Linked DNA regions of Homo sapiens. The protein of the gene in region 1 interacts with the protein of each later gene in a biochemical or structural test. Each region holds a gene or a part of one and is shown on either strand. Other genes may lie near its edges. The genes, in order: RNF19A and CGAS.

Region 1 (16,163 bases):
TACTAACCCTGAAAACCTGGCTCTCTCTTGTACTAAAAAACAATTCAAGTGCAGACAGCCTTAATAGCAATTTCTACCAAACATTCAAGGAAGACATCATTCCAATCTTACATACTCTGATCACTGAAGTTTGCCCCAGGTTAACATTTGAAGAATCAAATTCACTACATTAACATGTTAATCACAATTATATGGCAGATGCTCCCCCCACCAAATAAGCAGCCAATAAAATTCAACGTATTTTCAAAGGTAAAAACTCTTGGCAAACTAGGAGTTAGAAGATAATTTACAAAATTCAATAAAGGATATCCTATAAATATATCTGTGGCAAATAATAGCTGAAATGATGAAAGGTTTCCCTTTGAGGTTATCAACAAATCAACAATGCCCCCTATAACCACCGCTATTCAGAAGTATACACTAGAAGTCCCAGCCAGTGCAAAAGGCCAGAAAAATAAATAAATGATGCAATGATCTAAGAGAAAAAAACCAAAACAATGGGAATCCCACCTCTACCACTTAGCAGCTGTGCAACTCCAGGCAAATTACTTAATATCTCTGTGCCTCAGTTACCCCCATCTGTAATGAAGATAGTAATACCTCCTTCACAGAGTTGTTCTGAGGAATAAGTATTTTATTTTGAACCAACTCTAATGATAATTAAGACTTTAGTATATAATTTGATATACAATTACCTTTTGCATCTTTCTAAATTATATGACCCCTATTCACTGTTCAAGGTAAACCTAATATTACTTTTTAATTTAACTTTAAAGTTCAGGGGTACATGTGCAGGTTTGTTATATAAGTAAACTTGATAAGTTATATTTTTCTTTTATTGTTTGCTTTTCCATAAGTTACTATTTTAAAAGTGCTCGGAAAGTATTTCACACTTCAAAGCACTGTAAAAGTGTTTAATACAAACATTCACAAGTGATAATTGTACAGTGATATCCCAAAGAATCTGGAGATAAACCATTGGAATTAAAAGAGTAAGATTCACCAGATACAAAATTGTTAATACAAAATCAATGGCATTTCTCTATACTATTAGTTACAAACAGAAAATGAGGCTGGGCGTGGTGACTTATGCCTGTAATCCCAGCACTTTGGGAGGCCGAAGCAGGTGGATCACTGGAGGTCAGGAGTTTGAGACCAGCCTGGCTAACATAACGAAACCCCTTCTCTACTAAAAATACAAGAAATTAGCTGGGCGTGGTGGTGGGACACCTGTAATCCCAGCTACTCAGGAGGCTGAGGCAGGAGAAACACTTGAACCCAGGAGGCAGAGGTTGCAGTGAGCTGAGATCGCACCACTGCACTCCAGTCTGGGCAACAAGAATGAAACTCTTTCTCAAAAAGAAAGAAAGAAAATGACATTTTAAAAATATACATTATAGGATAAAAAATATCAAGTACCTGGGAATGAAATTTAACAAAAGATGTAAAAGAATTCTATGGGGATAATTATAGATTCAATGTAATCCCAATCAAAATTAGTGAAACACAACAAGGTTATTCTAATATGTTTATGGAAATATAAAGTGCCAAGGACAGTCAAGACACCATCCAAGGAAAAAACAGTGGCAGACTTGCCCTATTAGATAGCAAATTCAGATTCCAAGACTGATGTCTAAATTGTCCACTAACTCACCTTGGAGATGTTTCTGAAAATGCTCATTCACCAGGTATGTTTTTACATGGTTCCTTCATTTCCTTTAGATCTTGGGACAAATGTCTTCTAGAGACTTTTCCTGTTCTGCCCTGTATAAAACAGTACTGCTTCCCCAAAATCCCAGTCACTCTTATTGTGCCCACCTCTAATTTTTCATAGCAATCATCATCTGGTTATTTTACATCTCGTTCCATTATTTTAAGCTACATGCATATGTTTATTATTTTTGTATCCTCCAAATTCTAATACAAGCCCTCTGAAGCCAGGGTGTTTGTTTATTTGGTACTATGCTGTATTTCCAGCATCTACTTTGTTGAACGAATAAATTGGTAGAAGTCACAAAAATTCTGACTAGCATATGATGTACAGTGATCCAATCTGAACTAAATTTTAAAACTGCAAACTTTTTCATATCCAGCTATTAAATAATAGCCACCCTAAATAACATAACTCTCCCCAAGTTTAGAATACTATTTTTGGCATTCAAAAATCAACCAGTATGTAAACACTGGCTGTTAAGCAATGATATCTCATGCTCTAGTGAAGGAAATAAATGAAACAACAAATCCATTAAAAGGAACCATATGAAATGCAGCCTTGAGAAAAGAATTTTTTTCCTTAGATCCAAGTACAGACTAGAATCTGTAAGAAGCGTGATGACTGTGAATGGAAAGGCAAAACAATCTATGGAGCAGGAGTTTCTTTTGCTCATGTCATGTAGCAATTAATAGCTCCGATAGTTTTCAACACATACTTTATCCTTTGGTGATTTGTCTATATGTTTACCTAAATAACAGGCTAGGGAAAGTCTTACATGTTTACAAATTAACACAATTTCCAGGAAAAATAAGTTAGGAGTGGTGGATTATGTGCATTTAATATAAAAAGCTAACTAATTAAGTGCTCTGAAGCTGGGAATTTGTACAATGAAGTGAATCTACCAGTTAAATTGGTGGTCTACATAATCAACAGTAGGATATACTATTATAATCTTTGTATTTCTTTTCTCTCATTACCAGATGATTTTTCCAACAGGCTTTAAAGTACAAAGAGTTTTAACAAGATTTCAGTGAGTTAAGGTTTATTTTGAATACCCTGGAGGTATCTCTTGTTCAAGGCTAGCCCAGAGTTGAGTTCCAGGGAAAACTGGCTTGGTCCTAAATTAATCCAACTTTGAAGGATACAGGAGACAAGGAATTTCTGAAGCTAGTTGAAAGGTCCAGGAGACAAGGAATTTTTGAAGCTAGTTTTAAGGTGAGACTGAAGTGGTACTGGTTGGGAGTATCACCAGAAGTAGGTGTAGGGTGAATGAATGCACCAGCCTCCTATAGGGCACTATTTTTGCTGTATTCCTCTGAAGATCATTTAGCTTTCCATTTCATCTTTAGCCTTTTAAAGAAATGTCAACAAGGCAGTCAACATATTCATAAGATTATTTTGGCCGAGCATGGTGGTTCACGCCAGTAATCCCAGGACTTTGGGAGGCCGAGGTGGGTGGATCACTTGAGCTCAGGAGTTTGTGACCACCCTGGGCAACATGGCGAAACCTCGTCTCTACTAAAACACACAAAAAAATTAGCCGGGCGTGGTGATGTTTGCCTGTAATCCCAGCTACTTGGGAGGCTGAGGCACGAGAACTGCTTGAGCCCAGGAGGCGGAGGTTGCAGTGAGCTGAGATCGCACCACTGCACTCGAGGCTTGGGCTACAAAGTGAGACTCCATCTCAAAAAAAAAAAAAGATTATTTTCATGAAGCATTAACTATATACCAGGGAAACAGAAAAACCATCTATGCATTTTACAGAAGCTACAAGAATAGAAAGCATCTGATTACAATTAGCTTGAATTTAAATGGCTCATTTCATAATCTAATGTTGCTAGAATAGAATCTCTTAAAATAGTCTTTTAAGATCTTTTTACTTTTTTCCCCTTTTCCCAAGTTAGCTGATCTTTCCACTTTTCTGAGGATTTATAATACTGATTTCTCTTCACAATTTAATGATACATATATTTACTCAAGTTAAATTCAACCAATTTACTCAAAAAAATTATGTTGATGTATACAGTATCTTTTTTTCTGGTGGAAAGGCAGGAATTAGACAGGAAAAAAGGGTAGTTTCTAACACTGTTGAAAAGTTCAGCAAATGCTTCCCCTTGAGCTGAGACCAGAAGGCAGAATAATCACAATGGCTTGCAATATTTATGAATACTACCACATGGCCAATGAATATTCTCATTCTTATTAAAAAAAAACACTTGTGTACACACCAGAAGGCAGCAGTACATTAGTATTTACATTTATTTAACGTATGCAGTTTACACACTCATTATTAAACAAAATTGGAATGCAAACAAATATACAAATACCATAAGCATTATCAAATAAAATAACTGGCACTAGTGTTATAAGCATATTAATGGACCTGGTAGGGAAAAGTGATGGAAGAAGACTGCAGCCCATGGCATTTTTCTTTTTACCAAAAGAAAACGCTCAGTAGCACCATAATGGTAATACTTAAAAGAAATACATAAGATAGAACATTTTAACTGCTATCATTGAGGTTAACCTGCTTTTATTTAAGTGAATTATACAGGAAATTAACAGTACAGGCAGTATTTTGGCCAACTTCTGCTTATGTCAGCTGAACATTGTCCATAAACAAAAGCAAAAGAAAATAATGCTAATCATACATGGACCTTTTGTACTTGGTACAAGTTCTGCACCGTGCTTTGATTTCATGGTTGGAGAAGATATGCATGTGTTAAAAACTGAGGTTATGTAAAGTTATTCACTAAAGCCTGAGTGTGTCTTTGGTAGGCTAATACTTTTTCAGCATTATTAATCACATTCATGTTTATCTATTTCCTGTATTTTTATATATAATCCAAGGTGACCAGAGAAGACATGGAAAACAACACAGCAAAATCCTCAAATAACTAGGCCATTAAAACCCAGTCGATCCCAAAGGCACCAAGAATCAATGGGGTACAAACTTCCCCTTAGAGAAAGGTGGATTTTTTGTAATACTTATAACCTAATGGGACTTTATTTTGTAGTTTTATGTATCTTATTTGTTGCTGTCATATGCTTAATTACTTACCTTTACATTTTTTCCTCTAAGATGGCATCAACAATAAACAAGATAGAGTACCAGGTATTTCTATTTCAAAGTTGTGCAAAAACTGCCACAATCTTGCTCAAAGTGTCTAAGTATCCAAATGGTAGCAAATGAGCTGCATTAAGCTTTATATAACCACATTGCATATGAAGAAAAAAAATGAAATTTATGCCGATATAAATAGAAATGTTACAGAGTATCATATACTGAGAGTAACCTATGCAGTTCTTTTAAACTTATCTCTTTAGTGGTTTCAATAAAATATCACTAACCACTTATCCCTAAAGCCTCAAGTTTTCTTCATTTGAATGCTGTAGAATTGCATTAGTATTTTATATTGATTATATAAATTAAGACCAATTTCTATCTAAGTATGTGCTTCAAGCAATGTTTTGTGGCAAACACACAAAACATGCTTTGCTCTTCAAATTTATTATCCTTAAAATAATGCACTTTTAAAGCCTTCACTTCATAGTTTGGTAACTAAGATCCACATGACACACAATGCCTTGCTGAACACAGAAAATGTATCTGCATTATGATAATGAAACCCGGCTTTTGCTGGTAACCTGAAACTTAAGTAGTCACATGTAGTTCAACCAGCTCCAAACACGGTTGTACAGTGGTAATTATTCTGCAGCATTTATGGGCCTAAATTTCAGTCTGAATTGCAACTTTTAATTCCATTGTCTGATGTGAGTGGTTGTTATTTGTTTCTTTTAGTGCATCGCCAAAATATAAATCAACATTAGGTTTTATTCCATTGTTACCATGTTCTTCAGCAATATGATTCAACTGTGAAACTTCTGAACAGGAAGCAGTTTGGGTAACCACAGAAATGCTACACTGATGTGGGGAATTTTCCAGACGGTCATTTTCTACCTCAGGAAGAATGTTAACAGTAGCAAAGCGGGTGTGATAATCACTGGAACCATGACTACAAGAAGTTTTCATGCTTTCTAGGTCAGAACAACTAAATTCAGAAAAATGACTAGAGTGAGAATCTGCTACAGAAGGCATACTGTCACTGAGGGATGGAGCCTCAAATTCACTTGAGTTCGTGCTTTGTTGTTCTAACAACTGTGCATCCATGTCCTCTCTCGTCTCATTTATCTTCATGTTACCCTTTTTCCTCAGTTTACCACTTTTTGATTTTTTCCCTGCTGTTGCTTCTTTGGACCACTTGGTGGCACTAGATTTACCTTCAGGCAAGCCACTGGATGAACCGCCAGCATGACTTCGGGTGGCACTGCCATCATCCACACTACTGCTTCCACTGTTGTGCCTGAATTTGGATGGCTTTGACTCAATATCTACTTGCACCTCCATACTGTTGCCTTCTCTGAAATATAAGAGTAACAAATACAAACATAATTGCTGACTTCTTTTTGTTCAGATGACTGGGGGAAGGGTTTCTATGTGGAAAATTCAGACTATATATAAGCTATGAGAACACCTTAACGCAGAACACGTTCTACTTAAAAAACATACTTGATATAACAGAACTCTTTATAATGCTTCAATGTTTTAAAATAGTGGTGGACACATTTATTGCTTATGCTGTTCTAGACACTATGCTACCTTTTTTTAAAGAACAGCTTTATTCAGATACAATTCCCCTGTTTAAAGTGTACAATTCAGTGATTTTTAGTTGTGATCAGAGCTGTGCAACCATCACCACTACCTAACTTCAGAACATTTTCATGATCCCAAAAAGGGATCTTGCATCCATTAGCAGTTAGTTACCATTCTTCCCTTTCCCAGCCCTTGACAACCACAAATCCACTTTATGATCTATACAGATTTGCCTACTCTGGACAGCTCACTGTTTCCTTTTCTCAGAGAACTTAATAGTTGGTAGCCACTTTTCACTGGTAATTTGTCTAATGATAGGAATTATTCCTTTAATTTAAAAAATACTTTCAATTTTTTAACAGTTTTTTCCTTACTTGTCCAATGGGATGTAGGAATTCAGAATGGATCCTGCCATTGCTTTGGTGCTGGCATTATCACTAACTGTTCCCAAGCTGACTGTGCCAGATTCTCCACTTAGACTGTACCGTTCTTTCTGTACATCTGCTTGTACTTCCAACCTTAAAGGGGGGTATGAAATCACCAAAATTATATTTAATATCAGCACTACTGTAATATGTATCTTTAAATAATTCAGTTAAGAACCCTAGTAACCAGAAGCTATTTTAGGAACCATTATTTTTTATTTCCTTTTATTTAATTTAAATTCTACTGCAGCACACTGCATAGTACCAGCCATCCAAATAAAATGGGGAACATCAGCTGTCTGCCAAGTAAAGTGGTAATGAAATAACACAAAAAAGACACAAAGGATTTTCACTTAAATGTACTCCATTATTCTCACTCAGCATATGGCACTTTGTAATGTTTCAATGCAAAACACAAAGTTAGAATACATTATTAATCATTAAACATGACACACCAATGAATCCAAAAATCCTGGGCATCTATATTAAAAAATGACTCTATAAATAACACCTGCCTTTTAATACTTTATTTATTTATATATATTTTTAGAGACAGGGTCTCGTTATGTTGCCCAGGCTGGTCTCAAATTCCTGGCCTCAAGCTATCCTCCCAACCTGGCCTCCCAAAGTGCTGGGATTATAGGTATGAGCCACTGAGCCCAACCAACATTTGCCTTTTTAAAAAGAGGTAGTATATACCACTATAACTTAAGAGTTTGTATTTAAAAGGCAAACTACCTAAAAATAAGATGTCTAATTTATCTTTTAATTCATGTATTCTCCCCTACACTTAAAAAAAGCAAGGCTAATAAGCCTAAGTGAAAAATAGTGAATTAAAGAGAAACAGGGGAAGATAATTTTTCCTACTTATCTATATGGCTATTGATAAAAGACTTGGTGAGAACAAAGTAAGCAAGCATTAATACATAAAAGGACCCTAGCCGATTATCCCGGTCCCAGTTCACACATTCCTGGATGTCCTGACTCCACCTGTTTCCCAGGACTCAGCCAAAGTCCCATCTCCTAATATCTGGCTGTTGTTACCCACAGAGGTAAGATCTAGGCTTAAGTACTGCCTTTGCTTCAATGTCTACTGAAGCAGCTGTAGCAACGATTTATAATATAAAATGTGACAAGGACAGTGAAAAAATTGGCAGAATGTTATTCCTTAGACTTAGAAATCTACCACCAAATTTTTCTTTTTTTTTTTGAGACAGGGTCTCACTGTCACTCAGGTTGGAGCTCAGTGGTGTGATCTTGGCTGACTGCAGCCTCCAACTCCCAGGCTCAAGTGATCCTCCTACCTCAGCCTCCCGACCAGCTGGGACTACAGGTGCATGCCACCAAATCCGGCTAATTTTTTATATTTTTTTAGTAGAGATGGGGTTTCGCCATGTTGCCCAGGCTGGTCTCGAACTCCTGAGCTCAGGCAATCCACCTGCTTTGGCTTCCCAACATGCTGGGATTACAGGCGTGAGCCACTGCACCTGGCCCCAAATTTCATTTTTAACATTACTATTTTGAACCTTGACATAGTAGGGTTATATATAATCATCATGCTTTATGTTCAAAATTCTCACCTAATTAATAATTTGTAGTTACCAGAAAGCAGAACCAAACCAAACCAAAACACACACCTGTTAAAACAGTTTACCATGGCACTTCCTGACAGACTCCCCGTTATACTGGCTCCAGCTAGTGCCATGGTGCTGGCCGTTTCACTCAGGTTGTCTCGGATGGCTCCTATTCGATCCATGTGGCTTCCACTTGCACTCAAACTGCCAGTCAGCCCACCAACACTTCCCTCCCCTATGCTTGGGTTGTGTCTTGCTTCTGCTACTGATGTTGTGTCTAAATGCAAATATTCCAAAGAAACTAAGTAAGTATGATTATCAATTTTCTCCTTCTTAAATTCCTCCATGATTTCAGAGAGGACATTATATAAGGTATAAAATATACGCAGACATGGAAAAATATTTTTTTCAGGCTAGTCCACTAGAAGCAGTGGGAATAGAGCCAACAATTTTAAATGGTCACTAGTTTCTTTTTTCAAAAACCCAGATTTAGGAATTCTATAAAGAATATGATTGTTAAAAAATATCGCTGACTTTAGAGGAAAATTATGTGACAGTTTTCATTAAGGGTGTCATTTAAAGAGCTTATTATTCTCTAGGTCAGTAAGAATAGGCTAAAAGTTGATTTCTAGATATATGCCACAGTTCTGTCTACAAGCTATTATTAAGATCTGATAACACTATGTTCCAATTTTACAGTACCTCTCACACATTTTGTATTAAGGAGTCACTTATTTGCACCAATATTTGAGTTCCTATTATATACCCAATCACACGGTGACAAATGCTATGAGGAAAAATACAAGAGAGTAAAGGGGAGGAGAGTGATGAAAAGTGCATGTACGTACATGTCTGTGAGCCATTTTATATGATGTGATGACAGAAGGCCTCTTTGATAAGGTAATACTTGTAGAGACAAATGAAGTAAAACAGTGAGTCATGAAATTTTCTAGGGAAAGAGTATTCCAGACAGAGAACTGCCAGTTTAAAAGCCTAGAAGTAGGATAATGCTTGGCACCCTCAAAAATCAAGCAAGAGTGGTATAAAATAAGAGGGTGACAAGAGATGAGCTCAGAGACATAGTTGGGGCAGATCATGTGGGGCCTTTTGGGCTATGATAAGGACTTTGGATTTTCTTCCCCAGTACAGTTAGAAGCCACTGGGGAAGTTTTGAGCATAAGAAAGTTATAATCTGACAGGGTTTAGACATGTGACTATGGCTGCACTATGGACTAGTGAATAGAAGCTGAGAAGTTGATACAGCAGTTAAGAGGCTATTACAATAGCCCAGGAAAGAGGATGGTAGCTTGGACTAAGGGAAGGACAACGAAGAGAGTAAGAAGTGGCTGGATTATGGCTAAATATTGAAGGAAGCAGCAGAATTTGCTGACAGATCAATCAGATGTAGGACAAGAGGGAAAAGAGGGAGGCATTGTTAAGTGAAGGTTTTTGGCCCAAGCAACAGGAGGAATGGAGAAGCTACTTATTGAGTTAAGGAGGATGAAGGGAAGAAGAGATTTTAGAGCCAAGAATTTGGCTGTAGACAAGTTAAGCTTGAAATTCTTGTTAGACACTCAAGTGCAGATTAAAGAGGAAAGTTACACATGCAAGTTTGAAGTTCAGGGGAGAGGTCGGTCTATGCATTATTTAATAGATGAGATTAGGGGAAAAGTGTAGATACATAAGAATTCTGAGAACTGAGCTCTGGGGAACAAACATTTAGAGGTCAGAAGAGGAAAATGAACCAGCAAAGATTAATGAGACGGACTGGCCAGGAAATATGGTAAGAAGTGGTTTCCCATAAGAAAAGTGAAGTATTTCAAGAAGGGTAGAGTCTCTACCATGTCGGATATACTGTTAAGATGAGGACCAAGACCTGACCACTGTATTAGGTTACGTGGAGGCCACTGGTGACTCTGCTTCAGTGAATAGCAGAAATAAAATTCTGGAGTGGTAGGGACAAAAATCTGATTGAGGCCAGTTCAAGAGAAAATAAGAGGTAAGAAAGTAGGCATTATCTTTACACATCTGCCTAATTATTTCCCTATGACAAATTTCTAAAACAAGAATTGCTAGAATATAGAACATGCACTTTTTAAAAAAGGTTTATTGACATACTCCTATAGGCAGTCTATGAAGGCTTTTTTATTCTTCTTAATCTTTGCTCGTTACTGTTCTAATTCACATTTCTTTGAATAACATTGAGTTGAAGATATTTTTGTATTATTGGTCATCCGTATTTCTTTTATTAACTGTATTCCTCTTCATATCCTTTACTTAGTTATTTATAATGTTTCAGGCAAAATTTAAGATGAAAAGTTTATGATTTCTAAGACATTATATTCCAATTAGAGGTCAGATACCCAGAATTACCCCCACCTCTTTCATCCATACACTCCTCCTTGGCAGTTTATTCACTTATGTACTTCTGAATGAATACTATTAGGCCTAGTAAAAGGATGGCAATGGAAATTCTGAGTTGCATGTTATCTCTGGCCTCCCCACTACTTACACTGTTAATAAGCACATTTTCTTCCTTTGCTTAAAGGACTTACCTACAGCTGTGTTAGTTCCACCAACATTTATATCATTTTCATCATCAAATTCAATCCTAACTCCTTTTCCATTGCCTGCTGAGACTCCACAACCTCCGCTTCGACAAAGAGAAATTGGAACTACGCCATAGACATAAGCTAACATAATAGGAACACCGATACCTAAAGAGAAATTAAATCAGTCATTACAAACAACAACAACAAAATAACTCACAGAAACATGAGTTTTAGAAAGTCTTTTCAAGAGAGTCATACAGAGAAAAGCGCCAGGGTTCTGAAGAGTTGGCTGGAACATTTGCCAAAAGTAGATTTACCCAGTTGTTAAGCAAATTCAAGGTTCCCAGCCTTTCAGGTAATGCACATAAGGGGAAAAAGAGAGAGATGCAAACTTTTTTCTTTTGAAGTGCCAGGCCTCCGAACTGTACTTGGGGTGGAGTGGGGAGGAAGGGTATCAGCCACTAACAATTTACCAACTACTTTAAGGCTAGGCTCTTGAATCTGTAATACTTTCAACCAAGACTTACTGCAGGCTCAATTTAAATTGTCCTCAAATTAAAAAACAATTAAAAAAAATCCTTCCACAAAACTTTAACTCCATAAAATTGTAGGTAATTAGTACTTTTCAGCATTTTCTTACCTACAGTCACTGCAGCTACTACTGGAGACACGATTACAGACAACGTTACACCACCTGCTATGGCCAAATTCCGTTTGTGCTTTGAAACATCCTTGCCTTCATAGCGATTGTGAATCTTGAATTAATAAAAATAGGGGTGGGGGATTAAAGAGAAAATACATTACAATTTAACTTAGTTGAAAAAGATCTATACTTGCTAAAGTGATTTTTCATAGAAGTTCGTAGCTGAGTATCTTAGTTCAAGGTAAACCTACTAGTGTCCTTAAACTATTATATATTCTCACAAATAATTTGCTCCTTATTAATTTGCTTAAGACAGTGATTTAATGGATTTTACTTTGTGCTTAAAAGTTCTGAGTAAAAGTCATCTTTATAATCTTAATCAAAAGTAGTGTAATTATGTATCGAGCAAAGAGGAAGAAATTAAGATTATTATTTTCAACACAGTTATGAGTTACATGGTTCACCAACAGGATACTTCCAGCATTCTAAAGGTTTCTTTCTAAAGAATATTCTCTAAATGGTAAAAATTGGCTTCTAGGGAAGGTTTCTTTTTAAAAATTGACCTTAAAAAGCAGTTCTAATAAACAAGTATGAATAAACAGTATTATTTTTTTCTCAGATCCTTTTTATGAAGACAATATTGACAAATGACTCAAATTCCAGGGCTCTCATTTATAGCTCAAAGTAAATGGCAGAGAAAGAAAAAAGATGATAAATAATGGCTACCAGAAGACAGGATTGAATTCACTCAGCAATCTCTGTACAGGACAGGTGTTAATAAGTAGAATTTGATATCATCATAGAAGCGGTGATTAAAAACTGGCTTGTGAAATTATATGAACTTTGAGATCTTTATTTTCATGGTTTGCAAGGGCTAATATGGCACATTTTCCCCCTCTGTTCCAAAACAAATTCAAAACAGCCTCAAAAGTATGGGGACTCTCTAAAATAAAATGACTTATAAACAATACTACAGATGGGACTTATAAAATAATCTATTATTACATGGTATAATAACACCTTTGGCCTTTGGAAGGCTGTAAAGTACGATGAGTGTTGTGGAAAACAGTAGAAAGGTTGGGGTGGGAGGTGGGTGATGCATGTATGGGACAAGAAACCTTTCTATTTCCTAGTCAGAATCCCATTTCCCAGCATTGACTAGAGGTTCCTTGTCAATGAGCCTCCTCACTTCCCTACACAGTCCATGCAGGCAGAGATGGTAGACCTTCCCAAGGTACCTTTCATTATCCTTCAGCACTGCAGCTAATTCCTGCTCCTCCCCACTCCCATTCCTGGGAAACTTAGCACTGAAGAAGAGAAAAGGCACAACTGATGGAGCAGACTTGCAAAGGCAGGCTGCCAAGAGAAAGGAGTCTTCTAGAAAATTTTTCAGCCTCAAGCACCAATGTTTGATTAGTGATCACATTATCCCACTATTTCTGGTTCAACTTAATTTTTCTGTTTACTATTTTTTGCCACATTCTCTACTTTTTATTGTTAAGTGAAGGCTCAGCTTTTGGGTACTTTATTGACTTAGCAGGTTTTCCTAGGCTGGTTGGGATCCCAAAGCACCACAGAATATTATTTCAATGGAAAACTAATTCATTCATTTACAACCCTTTGGGTACATGTTTGAAAAAAGGAGATCTGTAACTGTACCCTATGACCTGAACAATGAGGTAAATAATCTCTTCTCTATAAATGATTTATAGGTACATGTGGTACAACAGTCTCTCTTTCCCTTCTAAGTATCTGAATAGTTTTGTTTTCAGCAAAGCCTTGCTTTGAATAACTACATGAAAAATTACGATCAGCTAATATATTTTGAAATTTTTTATTTTTTCTCTCTTTTTTGGAAATAGGGTCTCTCTGTGTCGCTCAGACTAGAGTGCAGTGGCACGATCACAGCTCACTGTAGCCTCAACCTCACGGGCTCAATCAATCCTCCCATCCCAGCTTCCTTAATAGCGGGGGCTACAGGCATGCACCACCACTCCCAGCTGATTATTTAGTTTTTTGTAGAGACAAGGTGTCACACTGTGTTGCCCAGGCTGGTCTCAAACTCCTGGATTAATGCAATCCTCCCTCCTCACCCTCCCCAAGTGTTAGGATTACAGGCATGAGCCACCACACATGGCCCAACATTTTTTAAAGTCCAGGTTTACTCACTTAAAACCTTCAGAAATAAATATGTGACTTATAAATATGTTTGTCATCAGCCCCAAAACTAATTTTTAAGAAATAGTATATATTATTTTTCTGATTATAAAATGTATGTTGAATATAAAAAATTCAGCTGTTTTACAGAAGAAGATCAACCTTATTCCCAGTCGGGTCCCAGAAGTTAGAAACAGAAATAAAGGAAACAAAAGGAAACAGATCTGACTCAAACGTAACAATTTTGTAACAATTAGTAGCCATTTTACAACAGAATGGATTGCTTCATGAGTTGGTGGTTTCCCCATGACTGAGTTCCCAAATAGCTACTGAAACTTAATCATGGAACTTATATTAAGAATTCATGCATCTGAGTTCAAATCTCAGCTCTGCTTCTTTGTGTGTAACTGAAGATATATTACATAAACTTTCCTAAATCTCAATATTTTAACACACAGAGACCGAAATATCGAGGTTGCTGCAGGGTTAAAATAAGTAAAAGTACATACAACACCTATGACACAGTATGACAACCTTTAGATCCTTTTTTTATTTTAGAGATAGGATCTTGCTCTATCACCCAGGCTGGAGTGAAGTGGCACAATCACAGCTCACTGCAGCCTCCACTTGCCCATCTCAAGCAATCCTCCCACCTCAGCCTCCCAAGTAGCTGGGACTACAGGTGCATACTACCATACCCAGATAATTTTTAAATTTTTTTGAGAGATGGGGTCTCACTATGTTGTCCAGGCTGGTCTTGAACTCCCAGCCTCAAGTGATCCTTCTGCCTCAGCCTCCCAAAGTGCTACGATGACAGGAGTAAGCCACCATGCCCAGCTTGTTAGTTCTTTTTTTTTTTTTTTGAGATGGAGTTTTGCTCTTGTTGCCTAGGATGGAGTGCAATGGTGCAATCTCAGCTCACCGCAACCTCCACCTCCCAGGTTCAAGTGATTCTCCTGCTTCAGCCTCCCGAGTCTGGGATTACAGGCACCTGCCACCATGCCTGGCTAATTTTTTCTGTATTTTTAGTAGAGATGGGGTTTCACCATGTTGGCCAGGCTGGTCTTGAACTCCTGACCTCAGATGATCCACCAGCCTCAGCCTTCCAAAGTGCTAAGATTACAGGGGTGAGGCACCGCACCTGGCCTGTTAGTTCCCTTTTTGAAAATTGCTATCCTTTGTTCTGCTTGGGTACAAGGTTGGGATTAATTTCTTTTTATTTTTTAAAAAAAGTTTTAATTTTTTTGATCTTCTTGGATACCAAAGAAAATTTCTTTTTTTTTTCTTTTAGCTATATTCTACTGAAAGTTACTTCTCAATCCAGAGATTCTATTAATTTAGGCAACAACAGACTTCTTAGGACCTCATAAATTATCCCATTAACCCTTAACAAAAGAACTATTTGCTTAGCTAATGAAATATAATTCATCAATTAGAGGCCAGTGGTAGTCACTGGTGTTTGGACTTTCACAAGATTGTTATAATTTGCAAAATAGTGTATTTATTAAAAGCAGTAATCCAAAAAAAAAGCTTTGAACTACAGCAGAAATAATTCAAGAACTGGCTAATTATTCTTTGCCTGAGGGCATGTGTTATTTAGCTATTAACTTTCATTAAAAAGATCTCATAGACCTGACCTTACAAGGATATACCTATGAGAAAAATCTCAGGTGTGTATCCTTCAATATTTTATACTCAAAGTTTTATAATACAAACATACTAAAATTTTCAGATTCAGAACATTTTAAAGCAAGTCTGCTTTATACGTATTTATATATGCTTGCCAAACACTAAAAATTTATGAAAAAAGAGTAACTGTTTTATACTGAAGAAACTAAAGATACCCTTTGTCTAAAAAAAAAAAAAAAAAAAAACCCAAAAATCATCAATACTAAAAGAATACACCTAAAGATTTAGAATAAGATAATGGACTAACAAGAAGTATGCATTTTACCTTGCGGCCCACATACACAGGAATGCCAATAATCATTGCAGGAATAGCAATGCCAGCTATTAAAGCGATTCCGACAGGAGCACCAACCAGTGTTCCCAGTTGCCACAATATTTTCTTCTTTCGGCTCCAGGGTTTCTTCCCCCAAAAAGTACATCCTGATGGACTAACGGAAAAAATTATAATGTAAATAACTGCTGCAAAACACCACAATAACAAATTAGTGCACTATATTAAAACAATGACTATTTTTAAAAACTTCTCATAGTTAGGAGCTTTTTTCCCCTTTAAATTCTGAGTTCATTAAACTAAGGTAAGAACCACTATAAATTATATTAACAAGATATTGATATATCTTATTTTATATTATATTTTATTATTTAATCTATATTATATTAACAAGATACTGATAACTGAAATTCAGGTTAAAAATTTATCCCTAGTCTTCCATTACCCTCATACCCTTAAGTCAGTTTAATAGTAAATTAATGCA
Region 2 (6,865 bases), on another chromosome or scaffold:
CAATATTATTCAGCCCTAAAACGGAAGGAAATTCTTGCAACATAGATGAACATTGGCTAAGAGTGATAAGCCAGTAACAAAAAGACAAACGTTGCATCATTTCACTGACATAAAGTACTTAGAGCAGTCAAAATCACAGTCAGAAAGTATAATGGTGGTTGCCAGGGGCTAGAGAGAGGAGAGAAAGATGAGTTATTGTTTATGGGTACAGAGTTTCAGTTTTGCAAGATGAAGAGTTTTGAAGACAGATGATAGTGATGGTTGCATAGGAATGTGAACATACTTAATATCATTGAATTATACACCCCCCAAAAATGGTTCAAATAGTACAAAGAAAAAAAAAGTAGTCAAGGCTTTCTAAACCCAAGAGGTTCTTGTCTAATATGCATTTCTTTTATTATTATTATTTTTTTTTTTTAGACAGAGTCTCATTCTGTTGCCCAGGCTGGAGTGCAGTGGCAGGATCTCACTCACTGCAACCTCTGCCTCCTGGGTTCAAGCTATTCTCCTGCCTCAGCCTCCCGAGTAACTGGGATCACAGACATGTGCCATCACACCCGGCTAATTTTTTGTATTTTTAGTAGAGACAAAGTTTCATCATGTAGGCCAGGCTGGTCTTGAACTCCTGATCTCAGAAGATCTAGGGCTCCTGAAGTGCTGGGATTATAGGCATGAGCCACTGCGCCTGACCTCTAATATGCATTTCTATCAGGGGCTTTAGAAATAGATACTTGAAGGCCAGGCAAGGTGGCTCACGCCTGTAATCCCAACACTTTGGGAGGCCAAAGGGGGCAGATCACCTGAGGTCAGGAGTTCGAGACCAGCCTGGTCAACATGGTGAAACCCCGTCTCTACTAAAAAGGTAAAAAAATTAGCTGGGTGTGGTGGCAGGCGCCTATAATCCCAGCTACTCAGGAGGTTGAGGCAGGAGAATCGCTTGAACCCAGGAGGCGGAGGTTACAGAGAGCCGAGATAGCACCATTGCACTCCAGCCTGGACAACAAAAGTGAAACTCCATCTCGAAAAAAAAAAAAAGATATTTGAAAGCCTGTATTGAGATACTCTAGAATCACAACAGCTGAAGCAGTATGAATGATTTAAAATGTAAATGCCAGGTCCGGTGCAGTGGCTCATGCCAGTAACAGCACTTTGGGAGGCTGAGGCGGGCAGATAGCTTGTTGGGGACCAGCCTGGGCAACATGGTGAAACCACATTTCTACAAAACCATACAAAAATTAGCTGGGCATGGTGGGGCACGCCTGTAGTCCCAGCTGCGCAAGAGGCTGAGTCACGAGAATCTCTTGAACCCGGGAGGCGGAGGGTGTGGTGAGCTGAGATTGTACCATTGCACTCCAGCCTGGGCAACAAGAGCAAAACTCCGTCTCAAAAATGAATAAAATAAAATAAAATAAAAAGAGAGAACTTTACACAACTTTTTTTCCCCCTGAGACAGAGTCATTTGCCCTGTCGCCCAGGATGGAGTGCAGTGGTCTGATCTCAGCTCATTACCACCTCCGCTTTCCCGATTCAAGCAATTCTCCCGTCTCAGCCTCCCCAGTAGCTGGGTTTACAAGCATGGCCCACCACACCTGGCTAATTTTTGTATTTTTAGTAGAGATGGGTTTTCACCATGCTGGACAGGCTGGTCTTGAACTCCTGACCTCAAGTGATCCACCCACCTTCGCCTTCCAAAGTGCCGGGATTATAGGCGTGAGTCACCGCACCAGGCAGAAACTTTACACAACATTTTAAAGATTTTCTGTGCTTTTTAAAAAATGTCAAATAGAAGTATTTACTCCAATTGCAGTCAATCTTTGTTTCATTCCATCTTGTAAAAGTTGAATATTTTCTCTTTCTTATTTTTTTCTTTTTTCAAAGTATTTTTCATTTGTTATTAATTTTTTTCTTTTTAAAAATTATTATTTTATTTCTTATTGATTTTTAAAAAACCCTATTTAAATTTACATTGAAAAAGTTGGCCGGGCGCTGAGGCTCATGCCCGTAATCCCAACAGTTTGGGAGGCCGAGGCAGGTGGATCACGAGATAAGGAGTCCCAGACCAGCCTGGCCAATATGGTGAAACTCCTTTCTACTAAAAATACAAAAATTAGCCGGGCATGGCGGCGCACACCTGTAGTCCCAGCTACTTCGGAGGCTGAGGCAGGAGAATCGCTTGAATCCGGGAGGCAGAGGTTACAGTGAGCCGAGATCGTGCCACTGCACTCCAGCCTAGGGGACAGAATGAGACTCCATCTCAGGAAAAAAAAAAAAAAAAAGGGAAAAGTTTCTGGCCAGGCGCCGTGGCTCACGCCTGTAATCGCAGCACTTTGGGAGGCCGAGGCGGGTGGATCACTTGAGGTCAGCAGTTTGAGAGCAGCCTGGCCAACATAGCGAAACCCCGTCTCTACTAAAAATACGAAAAATTAGCCGGGCGTGGTGGCGGGCGTCTGTAATCCCAGCTACCCGGGAGGCTGAGGTAGGAGAATTGCTTGAACCCAGGAGGCAGAGGTTGCAGTGAGCCAAGATCGCACCATTGCACTTCGGCCTGGGTGACAAGAGCGAAATTCTGTCTCAAAAAAAAAAAAAAAAAAAAAGAAAGAAAGAAAGAAAAGAAAAAGAAAAAAAAGAAAAGAAAAAGTTTCTGTGGCAGGGCACAGTGGCTCATGCCTACAATCCCAACACTTTGGGAGGTTGAGGAGGGAGAATCGCTTGAGTCTAGGAGTTCGAGACCAGCCTGGGCAACATAGTGAGACCTCCCCATGTATACAAAAAAATTAAAAAGAAAAGAAAAAGCTGGGCATGGTGTCCGCACCTGTAGTAACAGCTACTCAGGATGCTGAGGTGGGAGGATCGCTTGAGCCCTGGTGGCTGAGGTTGCAGTGAGCCGAGATTGCGCCCCCCTAACTCAAACCAAAATTAAATTTAAAAAAACTTTCACTTGAAAGAGAAAAGTTTCTCTGTCAATGTTTTTGTTTTGTTTTGTTTTGTTTTGTGATGGACTCTTTTTCTGTTGCCCAGGCTGGAGTGCAGTGGCGCGATCTCGGCTCACTGCAACCTCTGCCTCCCGGGTTCAAGCAGTTCTCTGTCTCGGCCTCCCGAGTAGATGGGACTACAGGCGCCACCAAGCCCGGCTAATTTTTTGTATTTTTAGTAGAGACGGGGTTTCACCATGTTGGCCAGGAAGGTCTCGATGTCTTGGCCTCGTGATCCGCCCGCCTCGGCCTCCCAAACTGCTGAGATTACAGGCGTGAGCCACCACGCCTGGCCTCTTTTTCTTTTTTGAGACAGAGTCTCGCTCTGTCGCCCAGGCTGGAGTGAAGTGGCACGTCTCAGCTCACTGCAACCTCCGCCTCCCGGGTTCAAGTGATTCTCCAGCCTCAGCCTCCCGAGTAGCTGGGATTACAGGTGCCCGCCACCACGCCTAGCTAATATTTGTATTTTTTAGTAGAGACGGGGTTTCTTTCGCCTTGTTGGCCAGGCTGGTCTTGAACTCCTGACCTCAGGTGATCCGCCCACCTCGGTCTCCCAGATTGCTGGGATTACAGGCGTGAGTCAGTGTGCCCAGGCAACACACACACACACATATATTTAATTATAAGAAAGACCAGGTCTTGCTGGGTTGCCCAGGCTGGTCTCAAACTCCTGAGCTCAAGCGACCCGCCTGCCTCGGCCTCTCGGATGCTGAGGTTACAGGCGTGAGCCACCGCGCCCGGCCCTACCTCATCTTCTTAAGACAGGGGCACGGATTGCCTGGAGAGTTAGAAACTTCGAGACTTTTGTAGCCTCAGGAAAGGCCGCGGCCAGCCTCTTCGCGGCATGGGCGTGGCTCCCAGCGACTTCCCAGCCTGGGGTTCCCCTTCGGGTCGCAGACTCTTGTGTGCCCGCCAGTAGTGCTTGGTTTCCAACAGCTGCTGCTGGCTCTTCCTCTTGCGGCCTTTTCCTGAAACGGATTCTTCTTTCGGGGAACAGAAAGCGCCAGCCATGCAGCCTTGGCACGGAAAGGCCATGCAGAGAGCTTCCGAGGCCGGAGCCACTGCCCCCAAGGCTTCCGCACGGAATGCCAGGGGCGCCCCGATGGATCCCACCGAGTCTCCGGCTGCCCCCGAGGCCGCCCTGCCTAAGGCGGGAAAGTTCGGCCCCGCCAGGAAGTCGGGATCCCGGCAGAAAAAGAGCGCCCCGGACACCCAGGAGAGGCCGCCCGTCCGCGCAACTGGGGCCCGCGCCAAAAAGGCCCCTCAGCGCGCCCAGGACACGCAGCCGTCTGACGCCACCAGCGCCCCTGGGGCAGAGGGGCTGGAGCCTCCTGCGGCTCGGGAGCCGGCTCTTTCCAGGGCTGGTTCTTGCCGCCAGAGGGGCGCGCGCTGCTCCACGAAGCCAAGACCTCCGCCCGGGCCCTGGGACGTGCCCAGCCCCGGCCTGCCGGTCTCGGCCCCCATTCTCGTACGGAGGGATGCGGCGCCTGGGGCCTCGAAGCTCCGGGCGGTTTTGGAGAAGTTGAAGCTCAGCCGCGATGATATCTCCACGGCGGCGGGGATGGTGAAAGGGGTTGTGGACCACCTGCTGCTCAGACTGAAGTGCGACTCCGCGTTCAGAGGCGTCGGGCTGCTGAACACCGGGAGCTACTATGAGCACGTGAAGGTGAGCTGCTTGGCGCCCTCCCGCCGAGCCCCGCTGCTCGGCCTTCCGCAATCCGCAGTCCCTACCTTCCCCGGGTCGCGCCCCTCACTTCCCTTCGGAAGTAACTTAGACTTTTGCATGTTTTTCGGTAGCCTAGTCTAAGTAAAACGACAAACCGTTCGTTTATTCATCTACACATCCAACGATCAGACAACCAACCGGTACTGATTGCTGGCTAATTTCAAGACACTGCTCCCGGGGGAATTCAAATGTATGGGTTCATTCATGCAAGCCGACATGTATCGAGTTTCCGTAACAGGGCAGTGTTTGATGGTGTGGACCTGAGGTCCCGAGTCAGATATTGACTTGGATAATTTGAAGTGGTCTGTTAAAAATTCCACGTAGACTTTTTCCTATGAGGAAGACCTCTTACTCCATAGAAAAAAAGATCTTCAGTTTCTCTCCCCCTCTTCCTCCCTGCCCCCTCTCCTGCTATCCCGTCTGACCCCAATTTCTTTTTTTTCTTTTTTCTTTTCTTTTCTTTTTTTTTTTTTTTGAGGCGGAGTCTCGCTGCGTCCCCCAGGCTGGAGTGCAGTGGCGCTATCTCGGCTCACTGCAAGCTCCGCCTCCCGGGTTCACGCCATTCTCCTGCCTCAGCTTCCCGAGTAGCTGGGACTACAGGCGCCCGCCACCATGCCCGGCTAATTTTTTTTGTATTTTTAGTAGAGACGGTGTTTCACCGTGTTAGCCAGGATGGTCTCGATCTCCTGACCTCTTGATTCGCTCGTCTCGGCCTCTCAAAGTGCTGGGATTACAGGCGTGAGCTACCGCGCCCGGCCGTCTGTCCCCAGTTTCTTACACAGAAATCATGGGAAGCTTACAGTATAATGTTAAACAAACAAATAAGAATATCTCCTACAGATACTAAAACGCTTTCTAGATACACATTCCGTATAATTGCTTCGACGTGTGTATTACACAGCTCCATTTGCTTGTGGGTGATTGAGTCATTAATCATTCCTGTGTAAATTGAAAGTTTAGAAGCAGGTTCCTGACTGGAGCGTGTTTCTTGCCCAGCAAGAGATTTGTTTCTTTTTCTTTTTCTTTCTTTCTTTCTTTTTTTTTTTTTTGAGACGGAGTTTCGCTCTTGTTACCCAGGCTGGAGTGCAATGGCGCGATCTCAGCTCACCTCAACCTCCACCTCCCAGGTTCAAGCGATTCTCCTGTCTCAGCCTCCTGAGTAGATGGGATTACAAGCATGAGCCTCCACCCTGGCTAATTTTGTATTTTTAGTAGAGACGGGCTTTCTCCATGTTGGTCAGGCTGGTCTAGAACTCCCGACCTCAGGTGATCTGCCAGCCTCAGCCTCCCAAAGTGCTGGGATTACAGGCGTGAGCCACCACACCCGGCTTCTTTTCTCTTCTTTTTTCTCTTCTCTTCTCTTCTCTCTATCTCTCTGTCTCTCTCTTTTCCTCCCTCCCTCTCTTCCTCTCTCTCTCTCTCTCTTTATTTTGTTCTTTCTTTCTTTTCTTTCTTCTTTCTTCTTTTTTTGATGGAGTTTCACTCTTGTTGCCCAGGCTGTAGTGCAGTGGTGCCATCTAGGTTTCGCTGCAACCTCCGGCTTCCAGGTTCAAGCGATTCTCCTGCTTCAGCCTTCCAAATAGCAGGGATTACAGGTGCCTGCCCCCACTCCCGGCTAATTTATGTATTTTTAGTAGAGACGGGGTTTCACCATGTTGGCCAGGCTGGTCTCGAACTCTGACCTCAGATGATCCACCTGCCTCGGCCTCCCTAAGTGCTGGGATTACAGGCTTGAGCCACGGCACCCAGCCCAGACTGTGTCTTGAGCATGATTCTTTTTAATTAACTAATTTACTTTTCAGCATCAGATATGTCTCTGATTGAGCATGATTCTTATTATGTAAGTATCAATTCAGTTCAATTACTGTATATGGCGGGTCCAAAGGAAAAAGAAAGTTACTAGTTAGAATTAGAGAACAAGACATTCAGAAGACAGTCTCCATTCAGAACCACTTTGTGTGTGTGTGTGTGTGTGTGTGTGTGTGTGTTTGAGACAGAGTCTCACTCTGTCACCCAGGCTGGAGTGCAGTGGCGCGATCTCGGCTCACTGCAAGCCCTGCCTACTGGGTTCACACCATTCTCCTGCCTCAGCCTCCCAAGTAGCTGGGACTACAGGCGCCCGCCACCATGCCCAGCTAATTTTTGTATTTTTAGTAGAGACGGGGTT

The links.
Region 2: the proteins of RNF19A (region 1) and CGAS form a complex in vitro, tested with the Homo sapiens proteins (one study listed by BioGRID).

The regions. Positions count from the first base shown.
Region 1 is NC_000008.11:100,253,112-100,269,274, forward strand, and holds the end of RNF19A (E3 ubiquitin-protein ligase RNF19A), read right to left. Parts: intron 15,837-16,163; coding exon 15,674-15,836; intron 11,675-15,673; coding exon 11,560-11,674; intron 11,085-11,559; coding exon 10,923-11,084; intron 8,645-10,922; coding exon 8,431-8,644; intron 6,887-8,430; coding exon 6,743-6,886; intron 6,136-6,742; coding exon 5,445-6,135; 3' UTR 3,956-5,444; downstream 1-3,955. UniProt on the Homo sapiens protein: E3 ubiquitin-protein ligase which accepts ubiquitin from E2 ubiquitin-conjugating enzymes UBE2L3 and UBE2L6 in the form of a thioester and then directly transfers the ubiquitin to targeted substrates, such as SNCAIP or CASR.
Region 2 is NC_000006.12:73,449,298-73,456,162, reverse strand, and holds the start of CGAS (cyclic GMP-AMP synthase), read left to right. Parts: upstream 1-3,865; 5' UTR 3,866-3,981; coding exon 3,982-4,638; intron 4,639-6,865. UniProt on the Homo sapiens protein: Nucleotidyltransferase that catalyzes the formation of cyclic GMP-AMP (2',3'-cGAMP) from ATP and GTP and plays a key role in innate immunity.